Linked DNA regions of Homo sapiens. The protein of the gene in region 2 interacts with the protein of the main gene of each other region in a pairwise test. Each region holds a gene or a part of one and is shown on either strand. Other genes may lie near its edges.

Region 1 (3,500 bases), on a different chromosome or scaffold from region 2:
AGGCTCATGTGATCCTCCCACCTCAGCCACCTGGTAGCTGGGATTACAGGTGCCCACGACCATACGCGGGTGATTTTTGTATTTTTAGTAGAGACGGGGTTTCACTATGTTGGCCAGGCTGGTCTCTAATTCCTGACCTCAAGTGATACACCCAGCCCTAGCCTCCCAAAGTGTTGGTATTACAGGCGTGAGCCACCACGCCCGGCCTTAAATCTACCTTTTGAGATAATGTGCTCTCCCTTCTAAATAAGTGCTCCAATACCTGAAAACAGCCTCCAAATACTGTGTTCTCTAGAATAGACATGCAGATCTTTAAGCCATTCCTCTGACTAGCATGTTTCCTAGCTACCTATTTCCCTTTTGTCTTCCTCTTTACACATGCTCCAGTTTGATGGACATATATTAAAATGAGGTAAAGTCACCCTGGTCAGAACATAATGGGATCTCAGTTCTCATATTCTGGCTAACGAATTTCAATTAATGCAACCTGAAGTTGTACTGAGGTTTTTTGTTTTTGTTAGAAACAAGGTCTCACCATATTGCCTAGGCTGGTCTTGAACTCTTGGCCTCAAGTGATCCTCCTGCTTTAGCCTCCCAACATGCTGTGATTACAGGCATGAGCCACCGCACCCAGCCTGCATTGGCTTTACAAATTTTCTGAATATCACATGAGAGTAACTCCCTAAAACACCAAGTTCTTTTTCACACTTGATTGTGCTAAGCTCCCACCTGTACAGTTGGATTCAGAGGCCCAAGCATAGGCCTTAATATACCTGTAATTGAGTTTCATCTTATTACATTCTTGCCTATGAAGATTTTCTGGATGTGGATTCTGACACACTACAGATTTACTGTCTCAACTTCCTGAATTTAGGATCAGCATGTAATCAGTATTTCCATCTAAGTTACTAACAAAAGAGAACAGAGGTGAGGACAAAGCTGCCAGAGGCTGCCCCTTCCCATTAACTAGCAACTTCTGAATAAAATTGTTTAGCTCTTTAGAGGAACAGCCTGCTGAAATCCCATTATAATATCTGAATTTTCCTAGTCTCCCAGGGTTGTAAATCCATTTTAAAAGGAAATGAGTTGTGCCTGTAGTTGTTGGCCAATCCCTGTGGTATCCCAGGAGGCTTCACTGCATTTAAGTACTCAGAAAGAGTATTGTTAACGACTCAAGACAGAAATCTCACGTAGGATTGGAGTTAGGCTTCCTTATCTAGCATAGTAAAGTTCACAGAATTTGCCCTCCTTCCCTTTGTGAAAATGTGAACATCTGGAATTTTCAAGGGTTAAGTTCCTATCAGTAGTATTTTAATTTATTTAGTTTTTGAGATGGAGTCTCGCTCTGTCGCCCAGGCTGGAGTGCAGTAGCGCAATCTCGGCTCACTGCAGCCTCCACCTCCTGGGTTCAAGCGATTCTCCTGCCTCAGTCCCCGGGGTAGCTGGGACTTTTTTTTTTTTTGAGACCAAGCCTTGCTCTGTCACCCAAGCTGGAGTGCAGTGGCGCAATCTCAGCTCACTGCAGCTTCCACCTCTTGGGTTCAAGCAATTCTCACACCTCAGCCTCCCAAGTAGCTGGGACCTTTTTTTTTTTTTTTTTTTTTGAGACCAAGCCTCGCTCTGTCACCCAGGCTGGAGTGCAGTGGCACGATCTCGGCTTACTGCAGCTTCCACCTCTTGGGTTCAGGCCATTCTCACACCTCAGCCTCCCGAGTAGCTGGGACTACAGGCGTGCACCATTCAAGCCTGGCTAATTTTTGTATTTTTAGTAGAGGTGGGGTTTCGCCACGTTGGCCAGGCTGGTCTCAAACTCCTGACCTCAAGTGATCCACCAGCCTTGGCCTCCCAAAGTGCTGGGATTACAGGTGTGAGCCACTGTGTCGGCCAGCTATCGATAGTATTTTAAACAAACTATTATATACTTCTCTCCTGTTTCACCTTGAATGATAAACACACAGGAAATGCATTTTCCTTTTATCAGCTGAAGTCATTTCACTAACATCCGCTAGATAAGCAGATCAAGTTTTATTTTAGGGTAGGTGATCTAAACAATGCCACAATATGAAATTTGGAATCAACCAATATTTATTGAGGATATGCTTTATGACATGTGTATTTACGTGTATTACTTCACTTATTCCTCACAACAACCCGTGAAGTAAGTATTACCAAAGCCTATGTGTAGATGGGGAAACTTAAGATTCAGTAAAGCTATATAACTTGTGTTAAGCTTGCTGAGCTGACAGATGGGAGAATCAGGACACAAGTCTGGTTTTTAAGACATCCTCCTTCTCAGCACTACGTGATTATTAATAAACATTCCCCAGTAACTCCTATTTTAAGGTCTTTCCCAAAGAAACCATTATCTAAGGCTATAAAATGTTTAGACTTTACTGTCTATGTTCAGCAGCAAGCCTCTTTCCTTGCATTGTTCAGAGGCAAGGCATGATATCTTTCAATTCTTGAGAGGACTTACCAGGAACAATCACTTTTGCAAGGTGGCTCTCCCCAGTTGAAAGCTGATTTTTTTTGTTGCCCACATTTGCTGCAATGGGTTTTGGCCAGCGTGTGTGGTGTATGAGTATGAGCTAATACAACTAGGTGAATTAATTACTGAACTATCAGATATATCTACTAAAACGTTATATGTTCTGTGTATGGAAATCAGTTTGAAATCAATTAGGCAAACTCTTCTTTGCTAAACACAGCATAGTCACAGTGAAAAAGCTCTCTGCGGTACAGAAATTCCTTTGTCAAGAAAAGCATGCAAACCCAATTACTAAATGAAGGGAATGACATGCCAAAAACATTTAGGAGTTCTATTTTCCCTTCTTAAATATTTTTATTACATGAAGGATTTCTAAAAATCTCACACCTATAGTCCCAGCTACTTGGGAGGCTGAGGTGGGAAGGATCGCCTGAGCTCTGGAGACCAGCCTAGGCAACAATACTAAGTCTGTCTCTTAAAAAACAAAAGAACTCTTCACTTTTCTTCTCTTCCATGGATAAGTCACACGCTCATCCACTATTATCTTCTTTTAGTACTAGAGACACTTCAAGTTTAATTTCACTGTGGGTCATACCACTAAATATTAAACAAAATAAATCGTAGGGCCAATCAGAAGGACCAAGAAACAGTGAAATAAATTTCAATGCTACTTCATTAAAAGCTTTTTCCAAATCTTCTTTGAGTTAATTATATTCCATTAGATCACATCATTTCATTAGAACCCCAACTTACATCTTAAAGTATTACACTGGAAAACCCATCCTTGTGACTTAAAAAAATTTTTTTTGTAGAGATGGAGTCTCACTATGTTGTCCAGTCTGGTCTTGAACTCCTGGCCTCAAGTGATCCTACTGCATTGGCCTCCTAAAGTGCTAGGATGACAGGCACGAGCCACCGCTCCTGGCATCCTTTGATCTTAAAGATATTCACCAACGAACGCCTACCTTGTGCTCACATGTAAGCCCTGGCAACTTATCTCTGATTAAAGTTG
Region 2 (5,076 bases):
CCCAAATCCAGCGGCCCAGGCAGATCCAGGAATGGGGCAGTGGCTTCCCTCTCATTTCCTTTCTGAAGGAACACCAGGGTTGCACCTCTGCGACTAGGCCTGGCTACAGGCCCCAGCTAGCCTCTCCCCATGGGTCTCCCAGGCATGTGCCATGGGGTCCAGGAGACCCTGCTCAGAAGCTGCCCAGAAGCTGTAGAGATCCTACATCCAACCTCTCCTTGAGGAGGCCTGATCCAGTGAAGTACAATGACTCTGATCATGGAGAATATTCCCCACTCCAGCCCCATCTGTTCATGAAGGAGACCCAGGGCTCCAGAATTGTGTTCTGTATGTCTGCACATGTATGTAAATACACACACATGAGCCCACATGTGTGCAGGCATCTCATGACACTCTTGAGGGGCAGGCAGGGACCAGTTTTTTTGTATTTTTACACCCCCTTAGCATCATCTAATGCTAGTGGAGAGGATCAGTTCTTTTCTTTGAAACTGTGACACCGTAACTCTGGTTTTAACACCTCTGAGTCTCCTCTGTAAAGTGAGGCTAACCCTGCACATCTCCTGGGTTCTGTGAGGAGTAAATGCACAATGCATGTAAAGCACCTGGCAGGGTGCTCGCCACCAAGTAGATGGCAGCTGCAATGCCAGGCTGGTACCCAGAGCTACATCCAGGAAGGCTTCTTGTCCCATGTGCTTACAGAGAAGACTGGCCCAGGTATTGGGACACCTGGGGATACTAGTTCTGGCTCTGCTCCAACTAGGTGACTTTGGGCAGGGATCACCCCTCCAGGTCCCAGTCTTCCCACCTTTTCCATCTGCATGATGCAGGCTGGTGTCTGTCCCACCCCCACTCTAGGACTTTACAAGCAAGTGTCCCCAAGCATGAAGTCACCTGGAAGGAGGTGAAGGAGAGCTCTGTAAACAGCTTGATGAAGCGCAGGGTCCCCCGGGCGTGCTCGTCCATCACAAAGGCAAAGATGACCTCATGAGTCCCCAGCAGGGGGATGAGTGTCAGCGTGGACTTGGCAAGTCTGAGGGGCAGGGCAGAGATCTCGAGTCATTCTGGACCTCTCCCATGGACTCTTCTTCCCTTTCTCTACCCTCCCCACTTCCTACCAAGTCCTGATATCTGGGTCATGGATGTTCTCCCACCCCAAATACCCTGGGACAGGCTGCCTGGAGGGAAAGAATAGAGGTCAAGACCCCAACAAGTCCAGGGGCTGCCCAGAGACAGGGCAAAAGCAAGGGTTTGGGGTCCAAGGCCAGGCCTGGGTGGAAGGAGAGGGTAGTGTAGGGCTCTAAGCTAAGCATCCCAGGATCTCTCTCTCTCTCTCTGCTAGAAGGAAAGGGGCACTTGCTGAGGGTCCTCAGTAAAGCCAGCTCAGTTACATCACCTGCATTTGATGTCTGTCTTGCACATGAGATTGGCCTTCAGTTTGGATACCACGATGCAGATGACCCGAACAAAGATGAGGAAGTTCACCTGCGGGGTGGGGCCGGGGATTGGCAGGGGGCACCAGCCCAGCCCTATCATAGCTGCCACTCCCATCCCTGACACCATCACTCACCCCAATGGCAAAGAGAATGGGCAGCCGGATAATGAGCCAGTAGTTCATGTTGGAGTTCCTGGTCCAGCAGCTGGGGAGGGAGAGAGATGCACACATGCATCCAGCAGGACTCACAGGACCCCCAGCTCAGGTGCAGGCACAGAGGCCGCCAATGCACATGGCCATGTTGAGTGCCACACACACAGCTCCCAGGAGCCACCCAAAAACCAGTCCCATGGACCCACAGAGCCCTGCCAGTGCACAGCCACACAACACACACGCATAGTCCAAATACACAGTCATACACAGAGATGCACACAGCCCCCAAACAAGCTTTCAAGGACCTACCAACACAGTCATGTGTGTACCCAGCATCATATACAAAATGACACAAACATTTCACTTGCAGATATTACAGAAAAACCTGCAGGAGGGCACCATGTACCCCACAGACCCAGTTCCGTTAGTCATCAAACAATCCTGGGACAGGGGCAGGGGCAGGGGCAGGGGCAGGGAGGGGAGATTAGAGAACTAAATTCACCTTCTAAGCTCCTGGTACCCCCCTTTATCCTCTCAACAGATGGGTGCCCCAGGTACCAAGGAATCCCATGGACCTTGAGGATGGGGACCTGGGCACACCCGCCCCCTTGGAGCAGGACACTCACCCCTCGTCCTCATAGAGGTACTTGACAATGCCCCAGGGGACAACAAACAGCAGGGGAACACCTAAGAGAGAGGGAAAGACAGAAGGGGAGAGGGGCTGGCAGGCCAGAGCCACAGTCTACATGCCGAGGCCTCTCCCTGCCCCAAGCCCCTCACACTTCCAGCCCCTCTCCTTGCCTGGCCTCCAACTATGTTTTCTAGTTTTTTTCTGGGCACCTGGGAGAACAGAGGCAGCAGGAGCCCCATGCGGACCCCCAGACTCTTCCTTACAGAGAGGTCCTCATCAGTCATCAGTCCCCCACCTCCTGTGTGCCAGGCACACTGTCAGGACTTGCCCTCAGAGTCCCGGCTAAGTTACCAGGCCACAGACACACAAACAGCAGCGGGACTGGGCCATGCGGTGGGGACAGCATGACGGATGAGGCAAGGAGCAGGCGAACCCTCTGATGCCCATTTTCTCTCTTGCTTCAGCCCACGTTGCCAGTCAACTCCTAAAGGCACTGGATGTCCTTTCAGTCATCTCTTCCCTACCACTGTGCACCTTCAAGAGGGCTCGGCAGAATCCTGGAATGGAGACAGGAGCCCAGTCCTTGATGCCAGCTGACCAACTAACTGTCCGCAGTGGCCTACAATAACAACAGCTACAACAATACTACTTTCCACTCGGCTGAGACTTGACTTGTGTAGTAGACAGCCTCTAAGATGGCCCCTAGGGATCCCCACCTCCTGTGCTCATACCCTTGGGTAGTTAGTCCACGTTGTATCAGCATTGTTTCATGTGACCCAGGAACCTCTGGCAGAAGTGATGGCATGTCACTTCTGATTGTTATAAAAGACACTGTGGCTTGTTTTGCATTCTCTTTCTCTTTCTCTGATCACTTGCTCTGGGGGAAACCAGTTGCCATGTGCTGAGAGAACTCAGAAGGCCTAGATGGAGGTCTCTGCAGCAAGAAATGGAGGCCTCCAGCCTTTGGCCAGCAACTGCGGCTTCCTGCCAACTGCCTCTTGAATGAGCTTGGAAGTAGATTCTCCATCCCCAGTTAAGCCTTGAGATGACAGCAACCCTGGTGACAGCTGGCTGCTTCTCTGAGAGTGCCCTGATCCTAGAAGGAGGTCTCAGAGAGAAGGGACAGCAGGGGGTGGGGGATGCCCAAGAAGGAAGTTTCTATATGTGTATGTGATTCAGGAAATCCACATGCTCTTGCCTAAAGAGTTTTCTCTGTGAGATCCTGAGCCACAAGGTACCCAGCTAAGTTGAACCGAGATTGCAGGCCACAGGAACTGTGAGATAACAATGGTTCGTTGTTTTAAGTAGCTAAGTTTCAGGGTTAATCGTTCTGCAGCAATAGAGAATTAATACAACTGGTTCCCAGTTCCTTGAGGGTAGAGCCTGGGCCTCACTCACCTTCAGAGCCTCAATGCCCAGATCACCCTGAGAGCTCAGGGTCTGTGTTGGTTGATTTAAAATTGGATTTTCCTTCCTCACATGACATATGAGGAGATGGATCAGGGACTCAGAAGGGCACAGGTGGGGCTCGAATTCAGGGCTGCAATCCCATACCCACTCCCACCGCCCTCAATGGCCTTCTGCACTGGCTGTCTCCATGCTCGTCTCCGTTGGCCCCTCCCTCAGTGTTGGAGATGTGTCTGAGATAGGTAAGCATGTGCATATTAAGGTATGTAGACATGTGTGTGTGAGGGTGTGGTGGGTGGACCATGAGTGTGCACGTATGACTTTGGGAATCTCTGCCTGGAGCACATTTCCAGGACAGAACCACTTCATAGCCTTTCCTGTCACCATTGTCTATGTCTTTAGCACATCAGTGTCCACTCAACAGCAGCTACTAAGCAGGTTGTGTGCCCAGATCTACTGTGCCTGATGATGCAGGGAGAGATGGAGGAGGCAAAGGAGCCCCCAGCGGACCAGCATTCTTCATCAGCTCTCTCTCTCCTGGCCCATTGATTTCTACACAAATCGGACCTCTCAGCATCTACGGTGCTTTAGTAACAGGCCTTTATGAGACTGGACAAGGAATGGGATGGTCTCCAAAGGCCCCAGCACATGGTACAGGCCCTGCCACATAGAAGATGCCCAGTGAGAATGGAACGAATGATGGGTGAGTCAACACACCAATAAGGGAAGGAACATTGTCTGGGCAAGAGCATGCCGATTTCCTGAACCACGTACACATGCAGAAGCTTCCTTCTGGGTATCCCTCGCCCCCTGCTGTCCCTTCTCTCTGAGACCTCCTTCCAGGATCAGGGCACTCACCCATGTTATCAGCCAGACCTGGCAAGTTTCACTCATCGTCAGCATTTCCTTAACAAGGCCTTTTCAAAAAACACAGTCACGAAAGCCCTGCTGCATGCAAACATTACGCACTCCCTGCTGGCTTCATCTTTCTCCCATTTAGAAAACGAGCAAGACAGGTTGGAGAAAAAAGCTCAAATTAAGACACACACAACTGGCTCCAGGAAGTAATGATTCCCTCAACCATCATTTGCCTCCCTCTTGCACAGCCTCCATGTGGGTTTCTACAGGCCCCCAACTGCCTGGGGACTGCAGCAGAAGCTGCCATGCCCTTTGGGGGACCTCTCCAACTGTGTCAGAGTCCTAATTTTAATTCTTCCACTTGCACATGAAGCTGAAAGTTGTTTCCCAAGTATCCCAGCTTGGGCAAGGCCTCCTGGCATCACGTCTGAGCTCCTAGCAACCTGTGAATCTCTCTCCGTCTCCCCCACCCCAATCCTCAAGAAAAAGGTGTTCTGATTAGAGCAGGGTGTCCTCCGGGTCTTGCCCTTGTGCTCCCACAGACCCCGAGCCCTGAGCTAGGGTGTGAGGTGGTAGGAAAAGGACTTGGCACTCC
Region 3 (4,217 bases), on a different chromosome or scaffold from region 2:
AGGCCGGTCACCATCGCTGTGCTTGGGGTAGGGGTCAGAGAAAGGCAAGAGGACTTGGGCAAAGATGGAATATCAGCACAGCCTGCAGCTAAGAAAACCGTTAGGGCATATGACCTCCTGTGTAAAGGACCACATCTGTATGTGGGGATAAAGGGTCTGACAGAGGAAGTCCTCAGTACATGGTCCCGATGCCTCCAGTGCTGTTCGAGAGCAGTGAGGTGTGTCCTCTCCTGTGCCTCCGCCTTCCCCGTCCCCACTGGAGGGGCCTGGGAACCCACCGGGAGTAGCAGGAGAGGCCGGTGCACAGGAAGGAGTTGAGTGCGGCGGCAGGCACAAAGAACTGGTGCAGGTGGCCGTGCAGCCAGGAGGCCGGCATGGAGTAGGCGGCATAGGGGAAGGCGCAGCCTGCGGTGAGGTGGGGGCGTGCAGCTGAGGCCTGAGGGGCGCGCCCCTATGTCCCGCGTCCCACCCCTCGCCCCGCTCCGGGACGCCCAGACCCCGCGCTCCCGCGCCTGTCCGGCTCACCCAGACTGTAGAGGCTGAGCGCGCCGTAGTCGAGGAAGTAGCAGATGTGGCGCATGCGGGGCGACATGGAGCTGAAGGTGTGCGCGCAGCACGACGCGAAGGGGTAGAGGCAGGCGGGCAGCAGGAAGACCAGCAGCGGCCAGTGGTACGGCTCCGCACGGAAGCCGGGGCCGCCCGCCAGCGCCAGGAGCCGCCACAGGAAGTACCTGCGGCGGGCGCGTGCTCAGGCCGCCGCGGACCCCCGCGACTGCCGCTGCAGCCCGTGGGCCTGGACGGTCCCTGCCCGCCTGGGTACCCCCTCTGAGCTCAAGGCCGCGGCCTGGGGCGGAGCCTCCCCTCACCAGGTGGGCAGGAAGTGAGTCCAGATGTTGACCGTCTCGTTGGTCATCTGGAAGGAGCTGAGGACACAGTCCAAAGCCGAGCTGGTGGGGCGGCGGTAGCCAGACATGATGCCATCTTCCCAGAACACCTAGGGTAGTGGTGGGAGAGGAAGGGCGTCACTGTGCCCGGACCCTTTCCCTCCATCTGAGATCTCTGGAAGCAGGGTCAAAGAGGCTGGGCTGGAGATCAACGTGGCCCCCAAGCCAAACTAAATCTGATCTGATGTTACCACAGGTCCCAGTACCCACAACCCACAAAACAAATAGGAAACCGAAGAGCCAGATTGGGGTGGGATGGGGGTGGAGCGCAGCACACAGGGCGCTCTGGGGAAGGGGACTCCAGATGGAGGGCCACAAGCTTGTTCCTCAGAGAACAGAGGAAGAGTCTCACACTGGAATGGGAGGGTAAGAGTTCGCCTGCAGGAGGGGCTGCCCCAATAGCTAAAAGAGAAGAACGTCAGCCCCTAGTCAGTCCTCTAGGGAATGGGGGTTGGTGGGTCAGTGGGTGGAGCCCCTCACCCGGGGGACCTGGTGGACTTGAAGAAGTTGGGGCAGCTTGAGACTGAGCATGGTGGCCTGGTACCTCCACGTTGACCTAGAGACAGAGTGGGAGGTAGGGGATCAGATAACTGCCCCCATCCACAGGCCCCTTTCACCTGGGTTCAGCCGCAGGATGGGCTGTGCGTGTGGGAGGCAGATGGCACCCTCCCTCCTGGAGCTGCTTCCTTCAGGCCTGGGGAAGCTGGTCCACCTTCCCCAGCCCTTGCACCACTTAACTCCAACCCCTGTTCTCCTTGGGGCATTCAGTCCCCACACTGAGGGGCTTGGCGGCCTCAGCCCAGCAAAGAGTGGCGGGGTCCTCCCAGCCGGGAGGCTGCCTCAAATAGTGATCCAGCCCCGCAGGCCCCAGTTTTTGTCTCAGGAAGAATCCTGACTCCTGGAGGCCAGCACAGAGACAGCCTGAGTACCACTCCCTTTCCCACCAGAATGTGCTTCGCCCACAGCGCCTGAACTGAGCACAGAACACTCTTGGCACTCCGAATCTCTGGAGAAGCCAGATGCCATCAGGTGGGACAAGGAGGTAGGGGGATGCCTGGCTTTTCTCTGAGGACTACACTTGTGCCCCCAGGAGAATTTTGGGGTCCCTGCCCCTCCTGAGCCCAGGTATCCCTCAGCCCCAGACCTGTGCACTGCCTCCGGGTGGCCGCAGCTCTGCTGCCCCGCCCGCCTCTCCCGGCACATTCCTTGGCACAAGTGGAGGGGCTGGGCCAGCTGGGCAGGCGGAGCCGCCCCAGGAGGAGGACTAGGACACTCCCCCCACCTCCCCAGGCCAAAACTTTGCAGCAACTCTATAACTTAGCCCCTCTTCTTGCCACCAGCTCTGCATCCATGTTTTTGCCGCATGCACTTTGGGGCTTGCACCAGCAGTCACTCCCCCAGCCTCTGCCCGAGATGGGTGCTGGAGACCCTGCTGGGCAAAGGCAAACCTGGCCCTAGTCCCTGCACCCCAGCAGAACAAAGATGGATGAGGGCCTCCCAGGGTATCCCTTGCTCGCTCCCACAAGTGGGATGGTCGGGGGTCTCCCCTACCCTGAGTGCTGCCCATCTATCTGGGGGAGGAGTGAGGAATACGCTGGGGTCTAGCTGCCCTCACGGTGCCTTCCCTTAGTAGTAGGGTTTGGAGATCTCTGGAGTGGAGTGTGTGCAGTTGCTATGGAAATGGGGGAGGGGTGGCTGGAGCAAGATGCTTTACCTCTATTTTCCCAGAAGAGCCCCAGAAGGTGAGCTTCCTTACCCAGAGCTTGGTGGGTGCTCCTAAGCTGGTGGGTCAACAGGCCCAGGGCTCCACGGGCGGAGTCCAAGGCTGCTGCCAGCCAGGCTGATGGAGGAAGAGTGGCCAGGCAGGCGGGCCAGGCCTGGGCGGGGAGTGGGGAGACAAAGGGGAGCCAGGGAACAATCCCAGCCTTGTCCAGCCTCCAGGGAGCAGCACGGGGTGGCCCAGCCCCATTAGCAGGCAGCTCACTCGGCCGCCTGCACACAGCCAGCTCCTCCAGCACGACCCAAACTCCCTGTGCTGACTGGCTAGAACAGGGTAGGGGCCCAAGGCAGGATGTGGCCATGGTGCTGTAGAGTCCCCCCGGCGACTCAGAGCAGTGTTCCCGTTCCAGGTTCTCCCAGCAGTTGGGGACAGCTCTGCCTTAGGCTGGCAGAGGAACCCAAATCCCCAAATGCAGAACAGATTTCAGAAGCCATCTCTCACCATGCTTTGCTGCCTCTTAGCACCTGGTGCTGCCTAGGGCTCAGAGCAAACTGCCTTTGGTAAATGTTGGTTCTATCATGGGGGATTCACCAGGCTCACCACCTCCCCCTCCCCCCCCCCCCCCCCCCGAATACAATTTGAGATGCCAATCCTTGCAGGACAGGCACTTGAGGACTCAGAGGCTGGTTTTTTTTTTTTTTTTTTTAAGGTGGAGTCTCGCTCTGTCACCCAAGCTGGAGTGCAGTGGCGCGATATTGGCTCACTGCAAGCTTCGCCTCCCGGGTTCACGCCATTCTCCTGCCTCAGCCTCCCGAGTAGCTGGGACTACAGGCACCCGCCACCATGCCCAGCTAATTTTTTTTTGTATTTTTAGTAGAGATGGGGTTTCACCGTGTTAGCCAGGATGGTCTCGATCTGACCTTGTGATCCACCCGCCTCAGCCTCCCAGTGCTGGGATTACAGGCGTGAGCCACTACGCCTGGCCAGAGGCTGGTTTCAAGGCTCACCTCCCCACCCCCTTGGGGAAGAGGACCCAGCTAGTGACAGCGAACCAACCCCAGGCAGCGATGTTGCTGGCAAGAGATTTTCACTATCACCCCTGCAAAGGCACCGCCTCAGTTTACAGTCAAGGAACTTGACAGTGCCTATCAAACCATCTCCAGGGCCTTCACTCAAATTGCCTGCTTCTTGTTCTGTTCCATCCACTTCAAAGAAGCCTTTCCAAAATGCATTTCAGGATGCCATCTTCAGTGCCCCACCCCCCAATGAAACTTCTGTACAGACAGGCACCAGGAGACAGGGATTGGGCTTGGGGGGTTTATTAAGTGATGCTTTAGTCTCAGTCTCTGCCAGCAACTGGGAGTGGGGTGACTCCACTCACCCCAGGATTTCCCAGACTTGCTATTTTAGAGGAGAGAGGCAGGAAGCCAACTATCCTCTAAGCCACAGCTTGGGAAGCTAGGCTAGTACTGGGGTGGGGGCAGCAGAGCTGAGACCCTCCACCCCGAGCCCCTAGCCTGTGCTATCCTCCCAGCCTGAGGGGGAGGAGCTGA
Region 4 (3,500 bases), on a different chromosome or scaffold from region 2:
TACTGCAACCTTGATCTCCTAGGCTCAAGCAATCCTCCTGTCTCACCCTCCTGAGTAGCTGGGACTACACGTGCATGCTACCATGTCTGGCTAATTTTTTTTTTTTTTGGTAGAGATGGGGTCTCTCTATGTTCCTCAGGCTGGTCTTGAACTCCTGAGCTCAAGCAATCCTCCCACTTTGGCCTCCCAAAGTGCTGGGTTTACAGGCATGAACTACTGTGCCTGGCCTTATAATTACTATTACTGATACTTAATAGGACCCACAGTGGAGGACAGACATGCAGGGCTCGCGAGCTCTGAGCCTCACACTATCATGGAGACTCTGACCTGCAGGGTCTCACTCAGAGGAGTTAATCAGGATGGGTCCCAGTCATCCCCACGTTTTTATTTTTAGAGACAAGTCTTCTCTATGTTGCCCAGGCCGGTCTTGAACTCCTGGGCTCGAGCGATCCTCCCACTTTGTCCTCCCAAAGCGTTGGGATTACAGGTGTGAGCCACAGCACCTGGCCCATTCCCAGGTTATACAAAAATCAGGTGCAAGTCCTGGGGGCAATTCAGCCCCAGAGAAGCCTGGGCAATATGAGTGTTGGTAGTTGTTGGGGGTGGTAGTCGGGATGGGTGTTGAACATCTGTGATATTACCATATCTGTATAATAGAATGGCTTTCATCCATGATTCCTGGCTGCTATATCTCTTGTAAGAGTCTTTTGTTATAATGTTGGGGCATTTTAGGCCTCAGGAGCGGGCCTCATGAAACAGAATCACTCTCTCTGACCTTCTCCTGTCCTTTCTCACCTGCTCAAGGCAGGACTGTAATCTGATGTAGGTCAAAAGACCTTTATCACAGAGAGAAAGTCTTGCCCCATACCCTGGAGGAAGGAATGCTACAGAGAGGCCAAGAAAATTCTGAGCAGAAAGGCCTTGCTGGGTTTAGATCATGCATTTTTGTCCAATCACATTTCTACACAGTTGTCAGTCATGCCTCGTGTAATGAAGCCTCCATAAAAACTCAAAAGAACAGGGTATGAAGATCTTCTGGGTAGCTGAACACGTGAAGGTTCCTGGAGCATGGGGCCCAGGGAGGCAGGGAAGCTCCACACCCCTTCACCCGTCCTCGCTCTGTGCATCTCTTCATTCATGTCCTTGGTAATAAGCTGGTAAATGTGTTTCCCTGGGTTCCGTGAGCCCCTCTAGCAAATTAATTCAACCCAAAGCAGGATCCTGGGAGTCCCAACTTGAAGCTGGCTGGTCAGAAGTTCCAGAGGCCTGACTTATGACTGGTATCTGAGGGTAGGGTGGGGGTCAGGGGGAGCCTTGGGGACTGAGCCCTCAACCTGTGGGATCTGAAGCTATCTCTAGATATGTAGCATTGGATTTGAACTGGAGGCACCCAGCGGGTGCCTGCTGCTCGTTGGTGGGGAAAACCCCACACACATTTGGTCACAGAAGTCTTCTGCGTTGACTGTTGTGTTGGTGCAAGAGCACAGGAAAAACATGGTTAGAGGATTTTTCCAAACAGCATCCTGCTGTAGTATAAGGGAGGAGACCTGATAAACTATCAGAGGCTGTTCTGATGTCAGGAACACAGCCATGAAATTGTTTAACACGTTTTCATGTGGAGGAGGAGGGAAAGAGATACTCTTTTCTATGTGACTTAAATGGCAGGAGTAGGATCAAAGGGTGGGGACAACAGGAGGCCAGATTGTGATTCATTTCCGGGAAAAATAACACAACATTTAAGAGTTTTAAATAGTGGCCTGGGTTTCCTAATGTGACTGAACTCTTCATTGCTGAAGTGTGCAAGTAGAAGTGAAATGCAGTGACATGGTCGTACTCATCAGGAGAGGTCTGATATTGAAACAGAGCCTGTAATGGGCTTTGGGGGACAGAAACCCTTCTTAGTTTGCTCTGGCAGCTGATGGTGGGTTACCTCATCCTAAAGCAGTCATCTTTAGGTGCACAGACAACTGTATGGTGGCTCTCTGTGGCAGAATTCTGTGAGCCCCCCAAAGGGCGGCCAGATCTAGCAAATAAAAATCCAGAATGTCCAGTCAAATTTGAGTTTCAGATAATGGGTTCTTTTTTAGTATAAGTATATTCAAGTATTACTTGGGCTAAACTTTTACTGAAAATATGATTGGTTGTTGATCTGAAGTCTGAATTTAACTGGGCATCCCATATCTAATCTGGCAACCCTATGTCTCACTTCTTCCTTGCAGCTGTCCAGCTAGAGACGACGTTTCCCAGCCTCTCCTCTCACTAGGTGTGCTCATGTCAGTTTTTGTTGATGTGACTAGGGCAGAACCAAAATATGCACAATTTTTGGTGTTACTGCTTAAAAGGCAATCCCTCATGTGGACTTTCTATCTCTTCCCCTCCTGACACTGTGAACAGGACATGCTGTCCACCCAGCTCTCCCGCTATGAATGAAGAGAACACCCTGGAGAGTGGGGAAAACCAGAGGGCAGGAACCAAGCCCAGCAATGACCTTGGGGAGCAGAGCTGCCCCAACCGGGCCCTCTCTTTTCACGGCCATTAGGTAAAAGGGAAATAAACATATTTTCTCTGGGCCACTTTATTTTGGGGCCTTGTTTAGCCAGCATTGTAACCAATGTACTTTCCTTGGTCCCTTTCCTGTCCCCCTCCCTAATCAGAATTCCTCTATTAAAGCAACACACAGCCTGCAGAGCACGGGTTCAGGCATACCTCCAACCCAAAGGGAGGGGTAGAGGAGGGGAGGTAATTTGTTTTCCCTTCCCTGGTCTACAAGCCAAGCCTGGCTTGGGCACAAGGCAATCTGGCTATGGTCTCTCTGGAATATTCAAGAACCAGTTGAGAACCCTCAGGACAAAGGCGAGGTCTGCTGCAGCACTCTCTCTTGAAAAGTTTCTTTTCACTTTCTCTTCTCTTGTACATCACATAGATGTGGTGGTTGCTGGGTTGTGCTGGGAGAGTGAAAAACTGAGAGGGAGAGAGACACAGATAAAGAGACACTGACGTAGGAAGCTATGATAATCCAGAAGCTCACAAATCTCCCTGAGTTCCTTTCTGTCTGGGGATGGCTTGAATCAGGTGTTGCTGGCCTCCAAGAGCCTGGGTGAGGTGGGCAATAAGCTCATGTTGGATTCTGACAAATGCCTCTGTGTGGTTTATGTCACCCCTGGCTCTCGCAGCTGCAACTGCAGCTGATGAGACTGCACGGTCATGCTGCAGGGATGGTCTAGAGGAGCCTGAGAGTCCCCGCACAGGGTTAGAGGGGCTTCAGTGGCAGACAGGGCCCAGCTACCAGATGCAGAGGGAGGTACCTCTGTGATCTTCATTCGCAGGCGATGGTTTTCTGACTGTAGGCCCTCCAGGCGGGATGTGCTGGCTTGGTTCACACTGGTGACCGAGGTGGACGTTTTAGAATCTTCTTTCTTCTGATTCTGAGTGAACTGGAATCGCCTGTTCTGCGTTGCTGCATCTGGGTTTGTTCTCAGGGTGATGAGCTGAAAGGACAA

What was found. Proteins that work in one complex are often made in the same cells at the same time.
Region 1: the proteins of GLP1R (region 2) and LAPTM4A interact in a protein complementation assay, tested with the Homo sapiens proteins (one large-scale study listed by BioGRID).
Region 3: the proteins of GLP1R (region 2) and PAQR6 interact in a protein complementation assay, tested with the Homo sapiens proteins (one study listed by BioGRID).
Region 4: the proteins of GLP1R (region 2) and GABBR2 interact in a protein complementation assay, tested with the Homo sapiens proteins (one study listed by BioGRID).

The regions. Positions count from the first base shown.
Region 1 is NC_000002.12:20,041,629-20,045,128, forward strand, and holds part of LAPTM4A (lysosomal-associated transmembrane protein 4A), read right to left. Parts: intron 1-3,500. UniProt on the Homo sapiens protein: May function in the transport of nucleosides and/or nucleoside derivatives between the cytosol and the lumen of an intracellular membrane-bound compartment.
Region 2 is NC_000006.12:39,075,518-39,080,593, reverse strand, and holds part of GLP1R (glucagon-like peptide 1 receptor precursor), read right to left. Parts: intron 3,065-5,076; exon of another isoform or gene 2,681-3,064; intron 2,273-2,680; coding exon 2,212-2,272; exon of another isoform or gene 2,127-2,211; intron 1,698-2,126; exon of another isoform or gene 1,638-1,697; coding exon 1,568-1,637; intron 1,483-1,567; coding exon 1,394-1,482; intron 1,031-1,393; coding exon 892-1,030; intron 1-891.
Region 3 is NC_000001.11:156,245,257-156,249,473, forward strand, and holds the start of PAQR6 (membrane progestin receptor delta), read right to left. Parts: upstream 2,801-4,217; 5' UTR 2,701-2,800; exon of another isoform or gene 2,659-2,700; intron 2,377-2,658; exon of another isoform or gene 2,254-2,376; intron 1,501-2,253; 5' UTR 1,476-1,500; coding exon 1,425-1,475; intron 995-1,424; coding exon 867-994; exon of another isoform or gene 732-866; coding exon 526-731; intron 406-525; coding exon 279-405; intron 1-278. UniProt on the Homo sapiens protein: Plasma membrane progesterone (P4) receptor coupled to G proteins. Seems to act through a G(s) mediated pathway. Involved in neurosteroid inhibition of apoptosis. May be involved in regulating rapid P4 signaling in the nervous system.
Region 4 is NC_000009.12:98,299,936-98,303,435, forward strand, and holds part of GABBR2 (gamma-aminobutyric acid type B receptor subunit 2 precursor), read right to left. Parts: intron 3,489-3,500; coding exon 3,306-3,488; intron 1-3,305. UniProt on the Homo sapiens protein: Component of a heterodimeric G-protein coupled receptor for GABA, formed by GABBR1 and GABBR2. Within the heterodimeric GABA receptor, only GABBR1 seems to bind agonists, while GABBR2 mediates coupling to G proteins.